Regions from separate parts of the Homo sapiens genome. Here all the other regions are linked to region 5. The links come from fine-mapping of genetic effects on gene expression. A gene starts in region 5. Each other region holds a variant in brackets. All regions are shown on one strand. Distances are from middle to middle.

Region 1 (5,101 bases), 33 kb before region 5:
AGGCAGATGAAATAATAGGTGAGCATTTCCATTCTTTACTAAGACTGGAAAGCGACGGTGGTGGTGGTGAGGTAGGGATGGCAAGACCCTAGGAAGCTGCTTAAACTGCAGGAGGAAGTATCCCTAATTAAACTTCACATGGTGCATCGTTCTGACGTGTTTTCTGATTCTGGTACAAATATGCTGAAGATTGCTGTGCACTGGTTTTCAAATTGTGCTCCAAGGAACCCCTGGAGTCTGGAGATGTGGGGGTGGCCCCCCTGGAGTCAGTGGCAGCATGATTTTTGCCTGTTTTATTGACACTTTAGTTTATGTTTCTATAAAATGGCAATAATCATGGCTATTCGTAAGATTATTTTTAGTCATAAATTAGATTATCCATGAGAAGGGCCTGGCACATAGGACATGCTCAAACATTGTTGGCTAGGGTTATTATTTATTACTTTGTATAAGAAATTAGTTGAGGCCGGGTGCAGTGGGTCACACCTGTATTCCCAGCACTTTGGGAGGCCGAGGCGGGCGGATCACCTGAGGTCAGGAGTTCAACCAGCCTGGCCAATATGGTGAAACCCTGTATCTACTAAAAATACAAAAAAATTAGCTGGTTGTGGTGGCGCGCACCTACTCGGGAGGCTGAGGCATGAGAATTGCTTGAAGCTGGGAGGCAGAGGTTGTAGTGAGCTGAGATGGTGCAACTGCACTTCAGCCTGGGTGACAGAGCAAGACTCTGCCTCAAAAACAAAAAAACAAACAAAAAGAAATTATTTGAAATAAGCATTCTGTGGGTTAAAGCAGTTTGAACTGACTGGTTGATCCAAACAAAGGGTCTAGGAGTCTGGAGACCCAGTACCACTCGGCAACTAGGGGATGGACCCTGGGCAAGTCCTGGGCTCCTCCTGCAGACGGGACCCTCCCACCCCAGTGCTCTTATATCACCTGAAAAATAGGCCCCTTCCACCCCCAGCCCTAAAGACACAGCCCCATGTCAGAGCGCGTGGCTGGGCAGGATTTCAACCTGACCCTTGAGTTGGGTGCCCTTCTGCAATGCAGGCCCCGCCTAGCTTTCTGGTCTCAGTCTCCCCTTTGTTTAGGTGCGGGTCACACAGCACCCCGTCTGTCCATCAGCGTGGTTGTGACTGTGGATGTGGGTGACTCTGTCAGGATTCTGCCCCTGCTGTGCCTGTTTTGCCAGGGAGCAGGACTGTTGCTGTGGTGAGGTGACCAGCTGGGAGTCACGGGTGATGGCAACGCAGGACTGGCAGGGTGGGAAGGGGGAAGCAGGAGCCCCCGGGAAGATGAGCTGGATAGCTCTTGCCTGGCCCCAGGGAGAGGCCTGGGGTGGGGGGTGTCCGTCTGCCATCTTCCCCGACCCGGCCTCACCCCAGGGGCTGACAGATACCCCACTGATTGACTGGGCCCCTGAGAGGCCCTCCTGCCACGTCCTTAGACAAGGCCTTTGACCTCCTGCTCTGTACAGGCAGCCAAAAGGGGCACAGGGAAGGTGGGGAGGTGACAGTCCTCCACCTCCACCAGCCCTGGGGCAGCCTCTTGTCCACCCCTTCTGAGACGTCATGGAGGGCCCCTGCTTCCATTATTCATGAGCCACAGCCTTAGAAGCCTGACACTGCAGACTGGGTGCTTTCCACCTCTCTCTGACTAGTCCTTTCGACAGCCTGGTGCAGGAGTTCCCAAACATGCCTGATCACTAGAATCAACTGGGGCACTTGTCAAAAATATGGCTTCCAGACCGGGCATGGTGGCTCACATCTGTAATCCCAGGACTTTGGGAGACCGAGGCGGGTGGGTCAGTTGAGGCCAGGAGTTTGAGACCAGCCTGGCCAACATGGTGAAACCCCATCTCTACTAAAAATACAAAAATTAGCTAGACATGGTGGTGCATGCCTGTAATCCCAGCTACTTGGGTGGCTGAGGCAGGAGAATCGCTTGAGCCCAGAAGGTAGAAGTTGCAGTGAGCTCTGGGTGAGCTCCAGTCTGGGTGACAAAGTGAGACTCTGCCTGAAAAAAATGGTCTCCAAAGTCTCATTCCCCTTGCATCCCAATTCAGTGGATAAAGGTGGGGCCCAGGAACCTGCATTTTACCAGCACCTCAAATGATCTGATGAACACTGAAGTTGGAGAGTCACATAGCCATTGAGATTAAAGGGGTGGGCTATGGATCCTTTCTGACCTGGGTTAGATGCTTTGTGGCACTGGGCCAATGACTTACCCTCTCTGGTTGTATCTGAGACAAAATGGGGACAACATAATCACCACCTCAGAGAGACCTTGCAAAGCCTGAGACCAGGCAGGAGCAGCCCTTACAACTGTGCCTGATAAGGATCAGCAGATGGCAGTGACCACTGGTCTTTTTATGATTATTAATGTCATAGCTAACCCCTGCCTGCACAAGGACACTGCGTGGCTTAAGTGAAGAAGGCAGGACTCACAGGGCATATGTTCCAGCATCTAGTCCCACATTTTATCTGCTTCCAGGGCCCCAGGATGA[G/A]AGCTTAGCCCTGTCCACCCTGAGGGCCTGTTAATGCCATTAGTTCTGCCGGCCTCAATCCCCTCCCACCTCACTCAACACCTCCCTCTCCAGAGCTCCATCAGGCCGCCCGTCTGCTTCTCCCATCAGGGCTGCCGCACGTGCTGCCCTCTTTGGGGTGGGGGTAGTCAATCCCACTTCAGGTGATGAGTGGGGAGCTGCAGCAGGCCCTGGGCTGGGGGCTAGGGAAGGGGCCCCGAGTTGGGAGCTGGGGAGGGCAGGGAGTGCATGGGGGGTAGGGGCTCTGCCCGGATGCCCCTGTTCAGGGTCTGCCCTTGGTTCTGAGCCAGTGCCAAGTCTCAAGCTCTCACCTGGACTGGGCAGACGTTGGGATGGGGTTGCCTGAGTGGAGACTGAGGTGGGGGGATATAAAAGAGTTAAAATCTTTTCCCCCACAACCTACCAGCCTCCTCCCCTGCTTCCCCCAGCCTGAGGGTGTGAGATCCCAAGATGCAGAAACCAGGTGTCTGCACCAGCTCCACAGCATGTGCTGGGCCTGCAAAAGAAGTTGCCTCACAGTCCTCCAACCTGAGAGGGCTTCCCACAGGGGAAGGCTGAGAGGCGGGCAGATCTGAGTTCAATTCCCGGCCCTACTGCAGCATGTTCTGCTGCACTAGGCCTTGACTTCCTTGTCTATAAATTGGGCATCACAAAAGGCCCACAGGACTCCTGTCAGGATGTCAGGATGTGTGACGATGCTGAGTGGTGCACACGGTGCGTGCTTCACTCACGTGGGGCCGCCTTTGCATACCTGCGCCGCACAAACCACGTTAATGGAAAACGAAACCAAATCACAATCCCCCACCAGCTGGGCTTCTCTGTAAATTAACTGTCCTCGTTCTCCCTGACCCCTCAGTCCTTGTCCCCACTGGGATATAATGCTTACAGTGTTGCAGTGTGACCTAGGGCCAGGGCTGCTGTCTAGATGTGTTTCCTACTTACCCTCATATCACAATGTTTTCTCTGCACTGCAGGCTTCATTCGTTGTTTTTGATCCAGTACGAAACTTCTGAATGCCCCAATGCATGAGGCCCTAGGTTACCCTCTTGAACATCCACTCACAGCTTTTCTTTTCCAAGAGCTCCAACAAGTTCCAGAGGTGTTTTTTGTTTGTTTTCTCTCCCTTTGTCTCTGAATTCTATTAATCATGATCCCTTATTCACGCCATCCTCTTGCCATAGGTTCATAAACGGTTCTCCTCTGTTTATTTATATAAATAAACACCCAAGACCTGGTCATCCAACACAAGAATCAGAACATTAACCAGCACTTGCATCTGTCTGTGGGCTTCTTCCCTGTCTGACCATCAGCCTCCCCTACCCAAGGAAGCCACTATCCTGAAGCTTTCTGTAGGTCACATGATCATCCCTAAACAAATCACTGTGGCCTGGGGGACAGAACAGGCTGATTGGCCAGGTCTGGATCAGGTGATCATACTTGGAGTCAGGGCCTGGGGTAGAATTAGCCCCATGCAATGCACGTGGGTGGAGGGGAGTGAGGGTTGGGTGGTTTCCCAAAGGCAATCTGAAGGGCCAGGGAAAACAAGAGCCATCAACCGCACTTTGTCCCAGGCTCAGTGTCACTTGAACCAAGTCTTCCCACAGCACCACAGGGCTCAGGCTTGCCCTGCTGACCCCCAAGGCCTGGACCTGAAGCTCCTGGAAGAACAAGAGTTGATGAGAAAGGACATTCTCACTTCCTCCCACGGTCTGGAGCCACAGGCTGGAATCTCCAGCCCCACCTCAGCTGAAGGAGTGGGGAAAGGAGGCTGTCTCTGGGGGACTCGTAGAGGGCAGGGCAGCAGGCTGGGGTGGACAGGGTCCTGCTGTTTGACTCCTCCTGCTCCTCCTCCTCATTATTATCATGTCCTCAGGGCATGACCCAGGTCATCTCATTTAGTCTTCCCATGGTTTTATGTGGAGGGTCATTATTATCCCCCTCTCAGAGCTGAAGCTTCCAAGGCTGGCTAGTGAGAGACTGGCATGTGTTTACCCAGCAAAGCGGGGTCAAGCAGAGCCGTAGAGTCCTAGAGCCAGGTGGCCCTGTGGGACTGGCTTAACCCTTACGTTGGGGAACCCAGAGCCCAGACAGGTTAGATTCCCTGTCCCAGGGCCTACAGTGAGTGATGGCTCATAGCCTGACTCCTAATTCAGGGCCTGCTCCATGAAGCCAGATGAACCCAGGTGTGAGACCCGGCTTCTCCCCTTCTGATTACTTAAAGTCTGTGTCCCTCGGTGACCTCGTCCGCAAAAGAGGATGGCAATGGGCCCCACGTGGGAGCTTACCGTGAGGTTAATCACGTTCTCACCTGCAAGGTGCTCAGCATAGTGACTGGCACATGGCGAAGGCTCACGAGTGAGGGCCCTTTTCAAGATCATCATTTAGCCCCATGTTTCTCCACCTGCAACACGGGAAGAAGAGAGGCTCAAGTCATCTAAGGGGTGCGGCCATGCTTCAGAAAAATGTAATATTGAAATAGTCCCAGAGAGGTAGTACAATGTGGTGATTAAGAACGCAGACCCTGGGACCGGCCGAGGTTCCAGTCCCCACTCTGCC
Region 2 (5,101 bases), 140 kb after region 5:
ACGGGCACTGGTTGAGTGGAAGCTCCGTCTCTGGGGGCACGAGGGTACACGTGGCCAGGCCAGCCTGGCAGCCCTGCTGCCCTCCGCCGCGGCAGCTCTGTCCTACATTTAGGGTGCGATGTGTGATTTCATTTGAGCAAATATTCCTCTGCAGAAAAAATACCGAAAACCACAGCTTGTGATGCTGCCTCCCAGGCAGCTGCCCCTTGCTTGGTTTTGGTCAACCACAAACCTCCTGGCCCTCCCCCAGTCTCTCTCGCTCTGTGTCTCGCCTGTGGGCTCCAAAGCTCTGACTCACCATGCAGCCAGCTCAGCGCTCAGCACCACCCTGCCTTATATGGTGAGCTCAGCACCTCTGGGTCAATGAGTGTTAATTCATTTATTCAGCCAATGGCTGTTGAGTGCCTATCATGTGCCAGGAGCTGTTTAAATGCTGGGGATTGAGGGTGAGCAAAGCCCAAAGGTCCCTGTCCTCAGGGTTCCCTGACCTCTCCTCTGGGAGATCTCCTGAGGGCAGGACCCTCCTCTGGGTGTCTTGCCCCCAACCCCTCGCCTGATGTCTCAGACAGTGCTAAACCATAACTGGGCTGGCTTGGTAGATATGTCGGTCAGTTACTTTCCACAGCATTTTGTAAAGCCCCCACCTGTGCCTGATGCAGCAGAAATAGCAGAATGACTTGGTTCTCAGCCTTTAGGACTTAGGGTGTAAGGTGCCACTTGTCATGGCCCTGGGGAGGAGGAAGGGCAGCTGTTAGAGAGATCTGTATGCAGACCTGCTCCTGGAGTGTGCACCTGTTAATAAAACGAATCATACAAGCTCCACTTCCCAGGCATTCGTCATTCATTCAGATGCACTCAACAGGCACCTCAGAGGCCAGATTTTTAAGGGAGACGATCAAAGTCAAGACATCCAAGGTAAAGAATGGGAGGGTCCAGAGCTGAAATATAAAGGAAGGCTTGGGGGTTCAGAGGCCAGAAGGAGATGTTACTGCTGCACAGTGGTGGTGTAAAATCAGGGGATGCAAGGCCTGTGAGCTGTGCCTAGATATAGGCCAGTTTCGGACGTTAGAAAGGACATTCGGGAGGAAGACACAGTGAGAGCAAAGGCCTGGCAGTGGGACCCTGAGGCTTGAAAGACTGTGCCAGGCAGGAAGCCAGATGAACTCGGTTAGCCTTCTTTCCCGCAGGCCTCCAGGCTTGGCCGTGCTGGGCCTGGGGCCATCTTGTCTTCAAGGCTGCTTTCAACTACAGCTTGGGTACGGAGTTTAGTAGCGCCTCCCTTTTCCTTTTGTCCTCTTCTTCCCTGGGAAGGGGAGTTTTGGAGGGCCCTTTCAAAGAGATGGTGCTGCACAAAGACCAAGAGTTCTTAATCCTCTCATTCCTGAGATACTTTACAGAGCTTAGGGCTCATTTTCACTTAGAGCATTGCAAGCAGCTGCCCTAGTGGCATACCCTGGGCTGGAAGTTGGGAGACTTGGGTCCCTGCTGCACTACTGATGTCCTTAGCCTCCTGGCCTATAGTTTGTCAAGCTCCTTCCGCTTGAAACATTGTATTCCATGTCAGACCTGGGTTCGGATCTGAGCTCTGCTAGCAGTACAGCCTCAGTATTCTTATAAGTAAGTTAGAGATAGTAATAGTCACTTCTCGTAAGACTGTGTGAAGATGGAAGGAAATACTTGAATGACAGAAAGTGCTTAACAGAGCACCTGCCAGGGATCAGCATTCAGTGTAGTACTGATGCTATTTGGTGTTGTTATTATTTATATTTCAATCATATTAATATAACTCTGTGGGAGTCTTCAGTGTATAGGTGCCTGTTGGTCCATGTCCCAAAAAACTTGGTGATGGGGACCGGGCACGGTGGTTCATGCCTATAATCCCAGCATTTTGGGAGGCTGAGGCGGGCGGATCTCAAGGTCAGGAGTTCGAGAGCAGCCTGGCCAACATAGTGAAACCCCGTCTCTACTAAAAATACAAAAATTAGCCGGGTGTGGTGGCATTCGCCTGTAGTCCCAGCTACTTGGGAGGCTGAGGTGGGAGAATTGCTTGAACCTGGAAGGCAGAGGTTGCAGTGAGCCAAGACCGCACCACTGCACTCCAGCCTGGGTGACTGAGTGAGACTCCGTCTCAAAAAAAAAAAAAAAAAAAACTTGGTGATGGGGTGGGGTGTCACACCCCTCCCATCTCCGAAAAGTGTTGGGGTTGGGGCTGCCTTACCCAGAATCACATTTATTCATTCATTCACCAACACTTCATTGAGCACTTACTGTGTGCCTGGGCCTCTGAGAGGCACGTGGGGTCCTATTGGATAGGATGCTCAGGGTCCCTGCTCTCGGCAGCTCAGGTCTTCAGGCTGAGGCCTTGGGGAAAATCCCACCCCAGCTTCCCATGGCACCCGAAGCTTTGTTCAACCCTCCCTTGCCATCTTGGGCCTAAGGCCTGGGTGAAATGCCAGAGCATCCACTAAAATGGACTGGTCCAGTGTTGCACATGGACCTTATGGGGTGGATTGCCAAGTCCCAGTTCAGCATCAGGAAAACTAAGTGTTTCACGGGGAAGATGGGCTTGCCCTGGGTGCCAATGGCAAGGTCCTGTTTCATTTTTCACCCCCCTTTGATGCTTCTTTGGATCCTGAACTGCAAAGGGTTTTGATTATTTCTGGAGGACGCCAAGCCTGTACATGGAAGGTGCTGGGGGTCCAGTCTGCCCCTGTGTTTGCCTGGCGGTCTCCTTGTGGGTATCTCACCCTCTCTGGTCTCTGGCAGCCAGCAGAGCCTGCCATGTGGGGCATCAGCCAGAGGTTGGTGAATGGATGGATGGGTGGAAGGATCACAGTGGATTTACT[G/A]GAATCGGTGTTGTCCCAGCCTCAGCCGGGGTGGTTGGACATACCAATCTCTTGGCTTGTTTTTCTGTGACAATTTGATTTTGGCTCCCGTGGAATATAAGGAATTTTCAAGTAGTGGAATGGACTCAAAACAAATGGCTTTTGAGCTGATTAAGTTTCTCAGTTTGATTTCAGGGAGGCAGCCTGGTGTGTACCCTGATTTAAGGACAGAGCTTGCAAACGCCAGCTCTGAGGCTGGGTGACCTTGGGCGTGTTATTGAGTCTCTCTCAAATTCTCAACTCTCATCTAGAAAATGGTAGCACTAATGGCATCATAGGGCTGCGATGAGCTTTAAATTAAATAATGAGTGTTAAAACAGTTGCAGAGCTCTGGGCACGTGGTAAATGCTCAAGAAAGGATGATGATGGTGTATTTAATGAACACCCTTAAGCTATTTGTTGCATCTTCTTGCTCCCACACGGGTTTTTCCAGACTACTTTGCATTTGTAAGACAAAAAAGTTACTTTGAAAAGTTATTATTACACAAGCAATATAGGCTTCTTAAAAATTCAAATGATCTGGAAGGATTTAAATTAAAAAGCAAATTCCTCTTCCCTCCACCTGCCAACCCCATCAGTCCCTTTTCCTAGCAACATTCTCTTTGAATGTGGGGTTCTTCAAGACTAGAACTTTTCTTCTTTTTTTTCTCTCCTTAAGGACAGGGGACAGCTATGCAGTCAGGAGGGGACAGTAGCCTGGTGGCTGTTGCAGCCAGTTGTCATCCAGGCTAAAAGTCCTGAGGCTGGTGCCAAGGGGTCTCAGTGGAGCAGGAACAGGAGCAGGAGCAGTCGGGTCCCTTAGGCAGCCTGGCTTCCCCAGCACTGTTTGCTCTGAGTCACAGGGGTCTCCAGCACTCTATGGGGTCTCAGAGTCCTGGGGATGGGAGTGGCCTGAGCCGAACCACATTCAGTCCAGGCTTGGAGTGCCAGCCTCACAAACAATGTGGATGGCCACCTGCTGGGGGCCCCTCTTCTGTCACAGTGCCCCAGGGCTCAGTCCAGCTCCAGCTTCTGTGACCCCGGCAGCACAATCGATTGTTCCTGCTCACCTTCTGACAGTCTGCACTCCCAGCTGTGCCCTCTGCTGCCACACTCGGGCACAGGCCCAGGTCCAAGTGAACACAATTGGCATTAGGTTCCAGCAGGACTGGCATGGGGCCCAGCACATCATCGGTGCTAAATGGACTTGCAGCAGGTACGAGGTGTGCCGTCTGCCTTTACTTCTCTAAATCTGATTAAATCTGCCTTCAGCTCCCTCCACGAATTTGAAAGACATTCAATCCCAATTATGTTGGGGAGTGGATTTCTTGCCACCTAGGATCACATAGGAGTCTTGGTGGCCTTATGTGATCCGAAACATTTGGGAAAGGCTGCTGGACTTGAGCCCACACAGGGGCCCCGCAGACAGGCTTCTTTGCCAATCTCAGGGTCTAATGAGGCCAGGTGGGCAGCAGCTATTTCTGTGCTAGCCAGGGCACAGCTGTGGTCTTTGGTTGCAACTCCGAGCTATGAGCTTCGGTGTTCAGTCTCCCAACCATTCTCTGGCATCTCAGGATCACTCCATTAAAGCCTGATCACCTCTTGGAAGAGCTGTTCCGGGAACAGGGCACCTGAGCTTGTAACTTTTGGATCCTACCAATCTGGCTGATCTCCAGAAACACTCTCCACCCCTCCCCTCAAGCCTGCTGCCTCTGCTGCCCTCCTCTGCAGGCTCACACTGCAGCCACCTTCATGGGCTTCAGCCTAAGCTGTCTTCCTAGACCCAGCCATTTTCTGACTGGCCTGGGAAACCAGCCGCCCCCAAGGCATAGGACCCAAAGACTTGGCCACCATCTTCGGAAAGAAGAGAGAAGAATGCCCACTGCAGAGTGAACAAATTGGGGAAAAAAAGTCTCAAGACATAATCCTGTCACTCTCATTGGCTGCAACAAATGCATCAATACCTTTCATTCAAGTATTGATTGAACACCAACCTTAAATCAGATTCTTTCAGAGACTGGAGGTAAAAAAATAATAAAAGACCAACCTCAAGTTGCTCAGGGTTTAAATAGTGGTTCTCAAACATGATCCTCAGACCAGCATCACCAGCATCTCCTGGGAACCTGGATATGCAGATTTTCAGACCTCCACTCCAGACCCACTGAATCAGAAACTTGAGAGTGGTGAGGCCCGGCACCCTGGGTTTTGACAAGCCCTCCAGGAGATTCTGATGGAAG
Region 3 (5,101 bases), 27 kb after region 5:
ATGGCAGGTGCCTGTAATCCCAGCTACTCAGGAAGCTGAGGCAGGAGAATCCCTTGAACCTGGGAGGCGGAGGTTTCAATGAGTCAAGATCACACCACCGCACTCCAGCCTGGGTGACAGAGCAGGACTCCATCTCAAAAAAAAAAAAAAGAAGTCATATATATCTCAGCTACCTAAAGCTAATATTTTGCGTATGTTTCTTCCCAGTTTTTTCCCTGTGTGTTGTGTATGTTTGCATGTTGTTAAGTAAAATATATGAGAAGCCAGTGTTTTGGACTGAACTCTAGCACTAGGCCCCAACACACCAACCCAAAATGGAGTCATTCAAGCTGAAGTGTCACATTATCAAACTAAAACCTAAATTGTTTACTTGTAAGATCTGACCTTCCAGGAAATCAGGAGGAAGATGATAGCTAAATCTCCAAAACAGGCTAGTTTTAGCTGATGTGATGAAGTCCTCTCTGTTTTAACCGATACAAGGAAAGTGACTTTAAATGACCAATCCACATTTTGTTCTTTGTTTCTGCCTTCTTTAGCCTTTTCCTGTCTATAAAGCCCATCCCTTCTATTCAGCTCAGCAGAACAACTTTCTTTCTTTCTTTTTTTTTTGACACAGGGTCTCACTCTGTTGCCCAGGCTGAAGCGCAGTGACTCTATCTTGGCAACAGAGCACCTTTCTGTTTTGTAGATGGGATGCTGCCCAATTCATGAATCACAATAAAAACAAATGAGATCTTTACAACTCAATTTGTTGAAATTTCATTTCTTTGACAGTTTGTGTGTGTGTGTGTGTGCACGTGCACATGTATGCATACATATATCTCTATATAAATGAGTATGTATTGTCAGTATAATTTAAACAATAAAGCCATGATTCTCATAAATCTAGAATGAACATGAGTCAAAGATTGATTTAATGAGGAGGCCAGCAAGATGGAAAAGCTAGCTCTCAGGAGAATTCAAGGAACAGTGATTATGTAGGCATTGGAGAAAGAATGCCTGAATATGATGGCTGGATTGGATATAAAACTGGTTAATGCCCTATAAGGCAGAAAACCATAACCTTGGGGTTTATCTGTTTTACTAGCCAAAAAAATCTACAAGTTCATGTGTAACTTTATACAAAGTTACATTCCTCTAGAATCCCCTGGGTAATTACAGGATTCTTGGGTAGGCTTGCTAAACAGTACTCCAATATGAGGTTGAAATGACACAGACCTCTCTTTGCCTTTTGCCACATTACAGATGACTTTTCTTAACAGTATCCATATATTCTTTTTGATCACATGCTAGAAAACACTGCGGACCTCACCTTTCTCACTTGATATTATAGCGCATCCATTTTCTTTTCTTTTTGAGACAGAGTCTTACTCTATCACTCAGGCTGGAGTGCAGTGGTGCCATCTCGGCTCACTGCAACCTCCGACTCCCTGGTTCAAGCGATTCTCCTGCCTCAACCTCCCGAGTAGCTGGGATTACAGGCATGCACCACCACCACACCCAGCTAATTTTTGTATTTTTAGTAGAGACAGGGTTTCACCATGTTGGCCAGGATGGTCTTGATCTCCTGACCTCACGATCCGCCCGCCTCAGCCTCCCAAAGTGCTGGGATTACAGGCGTTTGAGCCACCGCACTCAGCCAGCGCATCCATTTTCAAAAGAAAGTTTTGATCTGCTCATAAACCCAGCTTGACTCACCCTCTGTGGGTGCCCCCAGCATCTTCCTGGGGGTCCCAGGGTAGCTGGACTCGCCGCTGCCACCCTCACATTTTATTGTAATCTCCAATTTCCCTGTCTCTTTCTCCATTCGAACTGAGTTTTTTGAGATCATGGATTTGCTGAGCTGAACTGGCTTCCTGATCCCATCGTCCCAAGCATCTATTATGTGAGCACATAGTGATCGACTTCAGTGTGGCTTGCTGAGTGAATACACATGGATTTTAAGAAGCCTGGCTTTCGTCAGTTACAAAAGGATGAGCTGTGCTGTTAGGGATCGGCAGGGACTCCTCTTCTGGAGTATTTGAGTCAAAGCAGCTCCCACCTCTCATGCAGGGTGACAGCCTATCCACTACTCCCATCTCTAATTCTGCCATTTAATTGTATTTGGACGCAACACACTTAGTCTAGAAAACCAGTCATGCGTCTTTTCACTAGGACTCCCTTGACCGAGCTCTCTGGTTTTCTAACTTTCTTTGCTAATCAAGGTCTTAAAGGGGTAAAAAGTTCTTGGCCTCCTAAAGCTTAGGAGGGACAAGTGTGACTTGAAGGATTAATCTCCACGCTATGAATTTTAAAGCTCTCTGGTTCCATGTG[C/T]TGGGAAAAGCCATCAAAATGCTAATGACTCTGTGGTCTTGCCTCCTGCGGACCTTTTCTGCATTAGAATATATTTACATGGACTTGAGCAGGGAAGCATTACAAAGAGTTGGGGTGCAGTTTTCCCAGTATTCCGCTGCAGCCCTGTGGGTTATAAAGTCTGAATTAATAGCCCCAGTTGCGGCCTTCAGCTTCCTTGCTAGCTGCAGGGTGGCCAGTTTAGAAACATCTCTATTACTGGCGTGTGGCTTTTTAATACTGCTTCTCTCCGAGGCAGACTATCCTTGGGCATGCGTTCCTGTGTGTTTAATACTGCACATTGCATCCACGTGGAGTTCAGGGTCTGGAACATGTTGAGACACAATTCATACCAAAGCCAACTTCAGCACTGAGACAGTCTCTGTTCTTCTTGAACCATGTGCCAAAGCACTGGCTGTGCTTGTAACCTTTGAAAGCCTGGTATCTTTGCTCAAACAGCCCAATGACCCAAGATGTAAGATCTCAGATGTATCCTTGAGAGGATTAATACTATGGTGTTGGCCACACCTGGCCTCTAATGCAGGCTGGAGTTAATGAGTGCCGTGGCTTGGGCAGCTTTGGCTCTGTGACTGTGGTTAAGATGCCTGACTCCTCTGAGCTGTGCGGTGTAGGAGAAAGAAGAGTGCAGTTTAGATGAAAAGGGAGGTCCAGTGGATAGTCCTTGTCCTTACCTCCTTGAAGTGATGAGAAAGTGCTTTCAGACAGCACAAAGAGGGAGCAGATGTGGGACAATGCCCACCGATGGCAAGAGGTTTTGGGCTGCCACAGGCTACACATGCTCTTTCCTACTCAGTTGACCAGTGCGGCTGTGTCTGTCTATGGCAGGTCCTACACAGGAGGGCACACAGAGACCCTGGCTGGCATGTGCTGTCTGCAGAAAAGCCCCAGACCAGATGGGAGGCGTGAGGGGAAATGATTCTTAACAGCAGTTGCATTGAGAATAAACAGTCTCAGGCAATCATTTATGGGGATTGGGACATTCCCTCCCTCCCTGGCCCTTCCACCCTCCTCATCCCACCAAGAGCTAATGGGCTCAGATCGGAAGGCCCATGCTTCTGGGTAGACCCTTGGGGCCCCTTGCTGGCAGTGCCCAGAGCCTGCTGCACTGTGTCAAGTACAGTAAGGAACAGCCTCCTCTTTCTGAGCAGGAATAGATCCCCATCTTTCTGAGGATGTCATGGTTTCACTTCAGCCCCACTGAGACCCTGAGGCACAATTAACCAGGCTGATTGGGACTCATTCTGGGAACAAAGGGTGCTGGGCCCAGTGACAGGACGAGCAGGTGGGAAGCGCTTCCCTCCCCCAGCCAGACAAGTGCAGGTGGAGAGCCCGGCAGACACTGCAAGGTTCTCAGCGCTCAGGTGGCTTCATTAAGGGCTGCCCTGGGGTTTGCTGAGCTGGGGACGCAGCCCCAAGACATCCTGAGCATGCCTTGGCTCTCCTCCCTCTCCCCTGCCCCCACACCAACCCCCTATGTAGCTAATTTAAAACAAAGCAAAACAAAGCCCTGGCTTTGCTTTGGAGCCATAAATTGCAGAGCTTTTATCTGTCAACAAGCAATGCATCAGGCTGGCAGTGGCCCAGCCTGGATCCTGTGGCCTGGCATCGGCTTGGGAGACGAGGTCTGAGGCTGAGCTGGCATCCAGGGTCTCCCTGAGGACGCTGCTCCTTCTTGGGGCATAAGGCCAAATTCTTATGGCCTCGGGACTCAGAAGGGTGGCTATTTCTCCTAGGAGCCAGGAAGAGATGTAGGGTGACTAGGGTTGGGAGTACAGAGCCAGGGTGGGGAGAAGGGGAGACAGAGAGAGAAATGGAGAGAGAGGGAAAGAGAGATGGAGAGAGAGATGGAGGAGGGAAGAGGGAGATGGAGAGAGAGTTTGCCAACAGAAGCTAACCAGGGAAAGGCTTATCACTGGGTTGGTCAACTCTCTCTCTTCCTTTGTTCCTTGCTGCCTCTTCCAGGAAGTCTTCCTGGCTCTCTTCCTCCTCTGAAATCCGACTGACTTGGGATTCTAGGACAACAGGAGACTCTAAACCAGTGGTCTTCAATGTTATCTGGAAAGTTAATATATAAATTATTGTGAAGTCCAATTGTTGTGAATTAAGTGTGTTGTGTGTGTGTGGAGGGGTGTAGCCCCCATCTGTTCTTTGTGAGAACAAAAAGGAGGGAGGGAGGGAGGGAGGGAAGGGTTCCCAGGAGAATAACTTGGAATCATGAATCATAGCTACTCCCTTTTTTTCCCCATTTTTTTTTAGTTGTCATAAAATACAACATAAAATTTACCATCTCGGCCATTTTTAAGTACACAGTTCAGTTATTTTAAATACATTCATAATGTTGTGCAACCGTCCATGCCATCCATCTCCATAACTCTTTTTATTTTGTAAAATGGAAAATCTATATCCATTAAGCAATAATTCTTCCCATTTTCCTCTCCTCCCAGCCCCTGGTAACCTCCATTCTATTTCTGGTCTCTGTGATTTTAACTATTCTACATGTTTCATGTAAGTGGAATCATGCAGTATTTGTCTTTTGTGACTGGCTTTCTAAAATTTAGCATAGCATTTTCAAGGTTCATCTATGTTGCAGCGTGTCAGAATTTCCTTCTTTTTTAAGGTTCACTAATACTCCATTGTGTAGATAGACCACATTTTGCTTATCCATTCATCTGTTGATGGACACTTGAGTTATTTGCATGTTTTAGCTGTTGTGAATAATCCTACTCTGAATATGAGTGTACAAATATCT
Region 4 (5,101 bases), 46 kb before region 5:
CGCAATCTTGGCTTACTGCAACCTCCACCTTGTGGGTTCAAATGATTCTCCTGCCTCAGCCTCCTGAGCAGCTGGGATTACATGTGCGCACAACCACGCCCAGCTAATTTGTGTTTTTAGTAGAGATGGGGTTTCACCATATTGGCCAGGATGGTCTCAATCTCTTGACCTTGTGATCCATCTGCATCAGCCTCCCAAAGTTCTGGGATTACAGGTGTGAGCCACCGTGCCCAGCCACCATTATATCATTCTTATGCCTTTGCATCTCCGTAGCTTAGCTCCCACTTATAAGTAAGAACATATGGTATTTGGTTTTCCATTCCTGAGTTACTTCACTTAGAATAATGGCCTCCAGCGCCATCCAAGTTGCCGCAAAAGACATTATCCCATCCTTTTTTACGGCTGAGTAGTATTCCATGGTGTATATATACCACATTTTCTTTATCCGCTCGTTGATTGAATATCGTTGGTTCCATATTTTGGAACATGATTGGTTGAATATGATTAGTTCCATATTTTGGCAATTGTGAGCTGTGCTGCTATGCCCATATGCATGCAGGTGTCTTATTCGTATAATGACTTTCTTTTCCTTTGGGTAGATACCCAGCAATGGGATTGCTGGATGGAACGGTAGCTCTATTTTTAGTTCTCTAAGGTATTTCCACACTGTCTTCCATAGTGGTTGTACTAGTTTACATTCCCACTAGCAGAGTAAAAGTGTTCCATTTTCACCACATCCACATCAACATCTATTATTTTTTGACTTTTTAATTATGGCCATTCTTGCAGGAGTACTGTGGTAGCTCATTGTGGTGTTCATTTGCATTTCCCTGATAATTAGTGATGTTGGGCATTTTTTTTTCATATGTTTGTTGGCTGTTTGTATCCATACGTCTTTTTTTTTTTTTTTTTAATTGACGCAGAGTTTTGCTCTTGTCACCCAGGCTGGAGTGCAATAGTACGATCTCGGCTCACTACAACCTCCGCCTCCTGGGTTCAAGCGATTCTCCTCCTCAGCCTCCCGAGTAGCTGGGATTACAGGTGCCCACCACCACGCCCAGCTAATTTTTGTATTTTTAGTAGAAACAGGGTTTCGACATGTTGGCAAGGCTGATCTCGAACTCCTGACATCAAGTAATCTGCCCACCTTGGCCTCCCAAATTGTTGGGATTACAGGCATCAGCCACTGCACCCAGCCCATATGTCTTTTTAATTTCAAAGTGTCTTTATTTTTTGCTTCTATTTCTTTCCTGAGAGCTGGTGTCTTTCTGTCTGTTGCCTCATAAGTGCTTTATGGAAACCTTGACATCTTTTAGCTCATTAAGGAGGTTGGGTCGTGTGCAATCTCTTTGAGTACCTGGAGCACTGTGTGTCTGACTCTCCCTCTGTGTTTTTTGTTTGTTTAATAAGTCCTCTCCTGACGTCAGTTCTTGTGGTCTTTGCTTACGTTCCTTACCTCTATTGCCTTTTTGTTTTCTTTAGTCCCTTTTTGGTTCCTTTGTGATTATCATTCACCTTAGAACACAGCCAGTCATTTGTTGCAGGATGATATTGAAGAGAGAGGTATGCAACCCAGAAAGTGACTAGGGTTTGTTTCCAGCAGACATGCTCTTTCCAAATCCTTTATTGTTATTCCTTGGACATACATCACCTCCCACTTCAGCACTGAGGTTTGCCAAGACTCAGCAAAGGCCTTCAAACGTCCTCCTTCCTCTACTTCGCCCCAGCAGTCTCCTGGTGCTGGGAGGAGTTGGGTGCCAGGCAGGAGACATGGACGGTCAGCACGTCCCGTCTCGCCCCCCACTGTCCTGTGCTATTGAACTGGGTCTACAGAAGGATGTTTCTCATGACCCTGCAGCCTGAGCTGCCCCCAGACCCTATCATCCACAGAGGAGGCCTCCCAGTGGTGCTGTCTGTAGGGAGACTGGCTTCCTCCTCGTCTCTCTGTGCCCTCTTCATATTTGTGGCATTTAGCAGCATGTATACTTTCTGGTTTAATAAAAAATGGCACCTGTAATCTCAGCACTTTGGGAGGCCTAGGTGGGCAGATCACCTGAGTACAGGAGTTAGAGACCAGCCTGGCCAACATGGTGAAACCCCATCTCTACTAAAAATACAAAAATTAGCTGGGTGTGGTGGCAGGTACCTGTAGTCCCAGCTACTAGGGAGGCTGAGGCAGGAGAATCACTTGAACCCAGGAGGTAGAGATTGCAGTGAGCCAAGATCGTGCCATGGCACTCCAGCCTGGGTGACTTCTCTCAAAAAAAAAGAAAAAAAAAAAGGAGGTCTTGCTCTATTTTTTCCCCCCAAATTCGTTATTGTTTTCAGTGGGATTTGGGTGCAAGGAGCAGAGTAAACAGGCCTTCAGTAAACAGGCCCAAATGCATTCCTAAGTTTCCTCTTTTCTCTCAGGCCACCCTTTCTTGGCATCCCTCGCCCCCATCCCCCTCTCTTCAGCCATGAAATGCAGAAAGAGAGGAGGTACCTCCCTGAAGGCCATGCTAGTAAGGGGAGGAGTCAGGACACCCCGCCCAGGCACTCTGGCTCCCCAGCAAAAGGATGTGGGTTTCTCAGGTGTGGCTGTTTCCACTGGGCAG[G/A]GCCTGACCTGCAGCTCCTGAAAAGCCACTGTTCTGTCTTCCTGGCTTCTTCAAGTCAGAGTCCCAGAGATAATCACCGTGGGCTCCACGCAGCAGAGAGGGACTTGATCCAACACTCTTTTATCGGCCTCAGGGCCTGGGAGGGTTTCTCAGCATCCAAGAATCCTGGAGAGTGACTCCTGGAACATTACAGGGGCTGTGGTGAAAGACACACCAGTGTCGGAATATAAACCAGCCCCCAGGAAACTGCTTCTAGCCACGCCCTGCCTGAGAAGCCTCAGGGTTTCCTGGAGAGTCTGGGTGGTTTCACCCCACAGCCAAGGAATAGCTAACAGTGAGGACTGGAGAGACCCCACAGCCTGGGACCTGCATTCAAGCGCCGACTCCACCCTTGATTGACCTGCAGGGCACCTGGGGAAGCCACCACCCTCTCTTGCCTCTGTGTCTCCATCTGCCCCATGGGTGGGGTGGCCTGGAGGATCCCTGAGTCTCTGCTGGTGCTGGTGCTCCAGGATTCTGGGACCCCTCCAAGCTCCCTCCCAGGGGCTTGCCCTGCTCTTCACTCCCCCTATAATCCCACTTGGGTGGCTGGTTGGGGATCATTCCCTGAGACCTCTCCTGGATGTGTCTGAAAAGGCCCCTCAGGACCTGCAGCTAGGGCCAGCTGGGCAGCAATGTGGTGTTTGCTTCTGCAACCTTCAGGTCACCATAATGACTCACTCTTCCTTGCCAGTGGAGGAGAGCTTAGGGCTTCCCTTCCCCCAAGAAGCAACTTCATGGTCAGTGAACTTCACAGTGAATTCTAAGAAAGCCTCTCGGCCAAGGGCAGATTTATAGCCCTACATTTGCTCCTTCAGCTATTCCACAGCCAATCTCTTCTTATTCCAGAGGCATAACCTCAAGTCGGCCTAGGAACAGTCACTCGGAGACTAAGTTATGAGACCTAGTTGAGATCTGGGCTATGGTAGAAGGCTGGGATAACAAGTAGCCTTTGACTCTTGTCTCTAGCCACCAAGACCTTTGGTCTTCCTGTCAACCTCTTGCCTCCTTTCTTCTATCCTTACTTATGAAAGGAAAAGATGGACCCTTCATTCATCAATCCATCACTCACACATCCAACTATCCATTATGTACCCATTCACCTACCCACCTATCTATCCATCATCCATCCATCCACCCATTCATCCATCATCTATCCATCTATCCATTTATCCATCCATACATCCACCCATCCACCCATCCTTCCATCCTTCCATTTATCCATTCTAAGACTATCCATCCAGCCTCTATTAATCATCCATCCTTCTCCCTTTATCACCCATCCATATTCTCATCCTTTCACTCATTATCCATTCATCCATCATCTGTTCATTTAGTCATCCCTCCCTCACTCTGCACATCCCTTGTTCAAAAAGCCACAGGCTTAATAACAATAGCAATTATACTACAAACAGTTATAGCCACTATTTATGGAAAGCTTACTTTGCATCAGTCACTGTGCTAATTGCTTTCTTGCATTATCTCATCTCACCTACCACTATCCAAAGGGTCCCATGTCACAGATGAGGAAACTGTGATCAATAATCACCTAAATACTCCCTTAGAGATACAAATATGAAGAAGATAGTGTTTCTCTGACTTCCAGCACTCACCATGGAATGAAGGGGACTGACCAGTGAAAATACAGGGTATCCATGAAGTCCAGAAGCCTAGAAAGTCATAACAATGTATGTATATGTTACATATGAAAGATGTCTTTGACAATATTCTGTATGTTTGCCTGTTTCCAGATTTTATGGACACCCTGTACAGTAGAAATACAAAGTGACAGATGCTCAAACAGGACCAGATAAAACATCCTGTAGAAGCATTGCAAGAAGATAAGGGCACGGGGAGAGGAGAGGATGATGCTAGAGTAGCCAGGGAAGGCTTCACTGCAGAAGTAATATGTGAGCTGAGTGTGATTTTGCTAAGCAGAGAAGGGCTTTGCTGGTAGAAACCAGCAAGTAAAAGGGCATGGAGGCATGAATTGAAGACCTGATCAGAGAAATGCAAATCACTTTTAGTGTTTGCAATAAAGGAGTCATGGGAGAACCTGGGCAACATGAGACCTTCAAAAAAGGCCACCTTGAGCCCATGGGTGTCATTAGAATGACATGGGTATCAGAAATAAATGACCCAGTGCTGCCCAGTTGACATGCTATCTTTAGATGGGGAAAAATAACAGATTACTAAATAGCCTAGTCACTATTATCCGATTTTGTGCTGTAAAGTGCATACAGTCATCTTTCAGTATCCCTACAGGATTGGTTCCAGGATCCCCTGTGGATACCAAAATCCACAGATACTCAAGTCCCTTATATAAAATGGAGTCATATTTGCATATAACTTATGCACATCCTCCCATATACTTCAAATCATCTCTAGATTACTTATAATACTTAATACAATGTAAATGCTACATAAATAGTTGCTGTAGTATATTTTTAACTTGTATTATTTTT
Region 5 (5,101 bases):
GGTAATAATTTAACATATCTTTTTAAAAACAAGCTCACTTAAGTAAATTAAAAAAGAATGAAAAAATAAGAGTTGATTTAGAGAAGCCTATTCAGCAGATGTCCTTAGCTAATGCACAGATAGGGCCAGGTCCTCCATGGAGGCTGGAGAGAGGCTGAGGTCCAGGAAACTGACTTGGAACTGGAGTCAGGGACCGAGCTGGTTGTCTAAGTTGTGCAGCGGGTCTGCACTCTCTTCCCCTGCGCCTGCCCCGTTCTGCCAAGCCCCAGACCCTTAGAGACTCTATCCCTCTCTCTGCCTGTCTCTGGTCTCCACTTCCCCAGCTCCAGCACCCTTGCTGTGGGCTTCCCGTTTTTCCTCTTTAAATGTATGTGGCGCCTGGTGTCCAAGGAGGCTCACACGGGGCCTCTCCCAGCAGCATTCCACAAGTGCAGGGCCTGTGGGGTGTTCAGCCTCCACCCTCCATTCTGTTTTGGCAGCTGAAGGGTGAATGTGGAGCCCTTCTCCTTGTCCTCCTCTTATAGAAATTCCACCATTAGGGACTTCCTCCCCTTGGGTGAAGCTTTGCTCACTCTGGGTCCCTTTGAAACCGCGGATCCAGGGATTTTTCTTCCAGCCACGTGCCTACTCTAAGAGTCCCGGTGACGCGGTGAAGTTCTTTAAAGGACCAGACATCCCTGAAGTCCTTACAGGGACATCCCCTTACAGGGACGAATCCATTTCCTGGAATGTGGGCAAGGAAAGGCAGCCACTTCCTGCCTCTCAAAACTCTGGCTGGTGGCTGGGTGCAGTGGCTACGTCTGTCATCTCAGCACTTTGGGAGACTGAGGTGGGAGGATCACTTGAGGCCAGGAATTGGAGACCAGCCTGGGCAACATGGTAAGAGTCCAGCTCTACAAAACACACACGCACACACACACACACACACACACACACACACACACACACACCAAAAACAACAGAAAACATTAGCCAGGCATGATGGCACATGCCTCTGGTCCCAGCTACTCGAGGGGGCTGAGTTGGAAGGATTGGATTGCTTGAGCCCAGGAGGTCGAGCCTACAGTAAGCCGTGCAGGAGGTCGGGCTACAGTGAGCTGTGCTTGTTGACCAGGCTTGTCCAGCCTGGTCAGCAGAGCGAGACCTTGTCTCAAAAACAAAACAAAAACAAAACAAGAAGATCCCCCTCCCCCCAAACTCTGCCCAGTGGCCTGACTACCAACATCCATATACAAGACAGGAGTAGGGTCAACTCCTTCCTATCAGTCACCCCTTAGTGAGAATCAGCTGGCCAAGGGGCCTCCTGCAGAGCTGATGTGTGCTTGAATGCCTAGGGCCCACGGGGATGGGGTGTGGAAGCTTCAAGCTGGGACTCAAAACAGAGTTGCCAAGGGAAGAGGAGTGGGCGACCCGAGCCCCTGTCATCAGTACTTTCACTTGGGCTGTCAGTTTTGATCTGCTTGCTTGTCCGTTTTGTCTGGGGCAGGGTCGGGTAGTTGTTTAGAGGAGGCTCAGAGGTTAAAAGTCTCAGGCAAGTCATGTCAGGGGTTGGGAGCCAGTGCTGCTGTGGCAGCAGTACAGAGAAGAAAAGATAAGCTCCCCAGCCCCGCAAGAACCTCAGCCCTGAGGCCGGAGACACAGATCTGGCCCCTTGCAATCAAGTCATTTGCATCTGACCTGGGGTCAGGCCCCTCCATGCAGGAAGTCCCCTTTCTTATCTGCAAGTCAGAGGAGGGTGAGTTCCCCAGGCTTTCAACAGGTACTTCCCCCGGCAGCGGGAAGCCCAGGAGCCCGATCAGGACCGAGGATCTCACCCCAACCCCTGCGTTTGGGCCCCGGGGTCAGCTGAAAGTTCCCCTGGAATAAACACTTCGGGTCCAGCATGCCCCTCTCCCCACTCCCGCAACGATCTTCCGAATTCAGACGCAGAGAGGGCCCGCGAGCAGAGCGGGAGGTGGTCGGAGGCGGAGGAAGGGGAGATGGGCAGAGGGTGGGCCCAGGGACCCCCAGACAAGGCCTGGACGCGGGGTTGGAGGAGGAGGCGGAGGCTGGCGGGAGGCGAGGGGCAGCCCGCAGAGGAGACGCGCTTCTCGGCAGCAACGGCGTCTGGAGCCGGGAGGGGCGGAGGTTTGGGGAGGGGGAGGGAGGGCGGGGGAGGGGAGGGACGGACGGCGGCGGAGGTGGGGCCGGCGGGCTGGCGGGCGTGCAGCTGCCGCCGGCGTCGCGGGGCTCCAGGCTGCGGGGCGGACGTAGCGCCGAGCGATCCACCGCGGAGCCGCGCGAGGCCGCCCGAGCCCCAGCCCCGGCCCCGGCCCCAGCCCCGGCCCCGGCCCCGGCCCCGGCCCCGGCCCCGGTCCCGGCCCCGAGCCCCGAGCGAGCGCCGCCGCCTCGCGCTGCGGGTCCCCGGACGCGCCGCCACCGCCGGGAAGGCAGCCGGCGCCGGGCAAGTTGCGAGCGCGCCCCTCCGACCAGGAAAGTTTCCCCCCGGCCGCCGGCGGGATTTGGCGCGGGGTCCGGCAGCCGCCGCTGGAAGGTATGGGGCTCCGCACCTCCGTGCCCTCCGCACGCCGCCGCCGCGCCCCCGGGGACCTGGGGACCCCCCCGCGCGCCGCCCCGGGGGTGCTGCTGGACGCGGCGGGGAATTGGGGTGGAGTAGGGATCCCAGGACGGAAGCCCGGCAACCAAGTTCCACTCAAACTAGCACGCGGGGGCTGGGGGGCCGGGGACGGTCTCCACCCCGTGCCTGCCCGGAGTCCGCTGAGGGCCGGGGGCTGCGCCCAGGACAGGTGCAGAGCCGGTGGGCTCCCAGTGCTCCGGGTGGAGGAGTGGGGGCTTCTGGAGAACGGCGCGGGGTGGCAGGTGTGGTTACAAGGTTCGGGGTTTCGGCCAGGGCTGCGCCCGGAAAGGGGCTGCTCGCCACGCCACCCGGTAAGACAGTGAGGGACCAGGGACTGGGAGCGGCGATCGGGGCCGGGAGGGCTGTGGGGCCCGGCAGCTGCATGGAGGGCGGGCTGCCTTTGGGGTCCCTGGCAGCGGGGCGGGGCGGGGCGGAGGCGCCACTCGTTCCTCCAGGACCCCCCTTATTCCTTAGGTGTGTGCGGTTTGGGGAAGTGGAGACTCCATGGAGTGCTGGGTGGGTGGGAGGCTCGGGCACGTCCAGATTTAGGGGGCAGTGGGAGCCAGTTGGGACGGTGCTCGGCTCGGGTGGGATCGCGCCGGCTCCGGGTCCTGCTGGAGTGAGGTGACTGGGCTCCCGCCAGGGGGCGCACTGCCCCGGCCCTCGCCAGCAGGAAGCGCGTTCTGGCTCCTGCGAGGCAACCGCGCCGACATCCAGGACGCAGGGACCACAGACACCCAACTTACGCGGGGTCCCGCCCCGAGGAGCCCGCCCTACACTAGCCAGACGGGGGAGCGGGACCAAGAGTGAGGCGAAAGGTTCACAGTTATAACTGCGCCGTGGGCTGGAAAGGCTAGGAGTCAGGATGTGATTTTTCTCGGGAAGGCTGCCAGGGCAAATGGATGAGTAAGAAATTTACCCCCAGAAAAAGATGTAAGAAACTACAACTGCGAATTGGTGCAGAGAGAGTGGGTTGGGGAATTAACTTTTTGACGGTTTTTGGAGTTGCAGAAACCCAAACCCCAAAATGCATGCACCCTTTTTGTAAAAGTTGCACCTTTGTTTCCTGGATCTGGTCGAATCCCTGTCTGGTGAAGGCAGGATGGGGGTCTTGGGGTATCCTCTCTCTGGGCACAAGTAAACTGGGAGGCACAGGGCGGGCGGTGGGGGATGGGGCCTTAAAGACTTCAGCAGTCCAGGCAGAAGTGTTAAATTTCTCAGCAGTCAACGAGCCCTGGCCCCCACCCTCATCCCCTGGGTCTGTGGTCTCTAGGCCACATTCTTCTGGTCATTTCACAATTATTGGTGGAAATCTGCCCTGGGTCCCAGTTGTCTGGCCTCAGGGTCCCTGTATGTTGAGTCTGTGTGTCTGTGCCTTGGGAAGTCGACGGCTGCTGGCATCTGTGAGGACTGTCATCTTTGTCATGTGCGGGGCTAACATTGAAGGGACATTGGAGGGACTATTGCCTCATCTTTCTCTCCAGTTCCCTCCCTCCTCCCATCACCCCAAGTGAGTGCAAAGGAGCAAATCATAGATTGTGCCGTGGCCTCATTGTGGTTGGTAGAAGTTTTCATCTTTCTCTTAGCTGGTAACCTGTGCTCCTTGGGCAGCCCCCCTCCTGCTCCCATGTCCTTAATGTCCCTTACAAAGGTGGGGGAAATGGGGGTCCCTGAAAGAGATGAGGTTCCTCTGTTCAATGTAGTCTGCCACATGTTTTTGTTGGATGCTACTGAAATGCTCCAGGACAAAGTTGCCATAAAGACAGATCAGCATGATTTTTATTTTGAATAGAAGAGGAGGAGGAGAGAGGAGAGAAAGGAAAGGGTGGAGAAGCCTGCTGTGTCTGGATAGGTCTTTAAGACATTCCAGGGGGCTGGAAAACAAAAGAAGTTTTTTTTTGTTGTGTTTTGCTTTTAGTGACTCTTGTTTTTCTGTGGAGGGAAGCCTGCATGGACCAGCCCTGCCTTGGAACCTGCCTGGGAGCATGGGGCCCCTAGAAGGCCAGCGTTTCCCGTGTTCTGTCCCTCCCCTCTTCTCCCTACCCCCACCCCACTTTTCCTGAATTGGAGAGGGAGTTGAAGGTCCCCAAGGGCTACTAAAGTCTGTGTTTGGGCTTAAAGTATCTTGTGTGGGCTCAGTCTTCTCCCAGGCAAACTCCAAGATCTCTGATTTAGCAACATTTCAAGTCTTGGGCACTCTGTTTCCTTGTCTCCCTTGTCCCCAAACCCATTCAAACAGCCAGTATATGTGGTGCTTTTACCCAACCCCAGTCTGAAATGGTAGCACATCATTGAAAGCTCCAGGACACTTTCTAGAAGCCGAAGTTAGTTGGGTTTAGGATACCTTGGGGTTGGGTTTAGGACACCTTGGGCTGAGTCCAGGAAGGAACCCTCTGCCCTTTAAAAAATGAGATTTTAATGGTCTGAGGGGTGTGTTGGAGGGCAGGGTGCTGGGTAGGGACACAGGATTAATTCAAGGATGTG

Direction of the effects. Alleles are on the strand shown, and positions count from the first base shown. SD is a standard deviation of normalised expression in the study named. Not every link is listed here.
For the expression in tibial artery of the gene that starts at base 2,208 in region 5, A is the low allele of the variant in region 2 and G is the other (small effect, 0.26 SD a copy in GTEx).

Evidence for each region.
Region 1: its variant is fine-mapped to the expression of TSPAN18 in whole blood (TOPMed, PIP above 0.99).
Region 2: its variant is fine-mapped to the expression of TSPAN18 in tibial artery (GTEx, PIP above 0.99).
Region 3: its variant is fine-mapped to the expression of TSPAN18 in whole blood (TOPMed, PIP above 0.99).
Region 4: its variant is fine-mapped to the expression of TSPAN18 in whole blood (TOPMed, PIP above 0.99).

The regions. Positions count from the first base shown.
Region 1 is chr11:44,691,368-44,696,468 of GRCh38, forward strand. LINC02704 (long intergenic non-protein coding RNA 2704) reads right to left here. Exons shown (of 3, transcript XR_931234.3): 2 at 4,854-4,946. Among named protein-coding and RNA genes, the nearest start is that of LINC02704, 7.4 kb to the right of the region's middle. RefSeq lists an enhancer at 763-1,263. The variant G/A (reference allele first, on the strand shown) is at 2,507.
Region 2 is chr11:44,862,157-44,867,257 of GRCh38, forward strand. All of the region lies in intron 3 of TSPAN18 (tetraspanin 18), which reads left to right. Among named protein-coding and RNA genes, the nearest start is that of TP53I11, 86 kb to the right of the region's middle. RefSeq lists enhancers at 1-597, 698-747. The variant G/A (reference allele first, on the strand shown) is at 2,847.
Region 3 is chr11:44,751,791-44,756,891 of GRCh38, forward strand. The region is part of intron 1 of TSPAN18 (tetraspanin 18); the gene reads left to right. Among named protein-coding and RNA genes, the nearest start is that of TSPAN18-AS1, 18 kb to the left of the region's middle. RefSeq lists enhancers at 1,104-1,912, 1,913-2,719. The variant C/T (reference allele first, on the strand shown) is at 2,314.
Region 4 is chr11:44,678,585-44,683,685 of GRCh38, forward strand. No RefSeq gene overlaps it. Among named protein-coding and RNA genes, the nearest start is that of LINC02704, 20 kb to the right of the region's middle. The variant G/A (reference allele first, on the strand shown) is at 2,598.
Region 5 is chr11:44,724,755-44,729,855 of GRCh38, forward strand. TSPAN18 (tetraspanin 18) reads left to right here and starts at 2,208. Exons shown (of 10, transcript NM_130783.5): 1 at 2,208-2,533. The region is part of intron 2 of TSPAN18-AS1 (TSPAN18 antisense RNA 1); the gene reads right to left. RefSeq lists enhancers at 736-1,596, 1,597-2,458, 1,825-1,994, 3,710-4,212, 4,213-4,713 and silencers at 2,185-2,334, 3,171-3,340.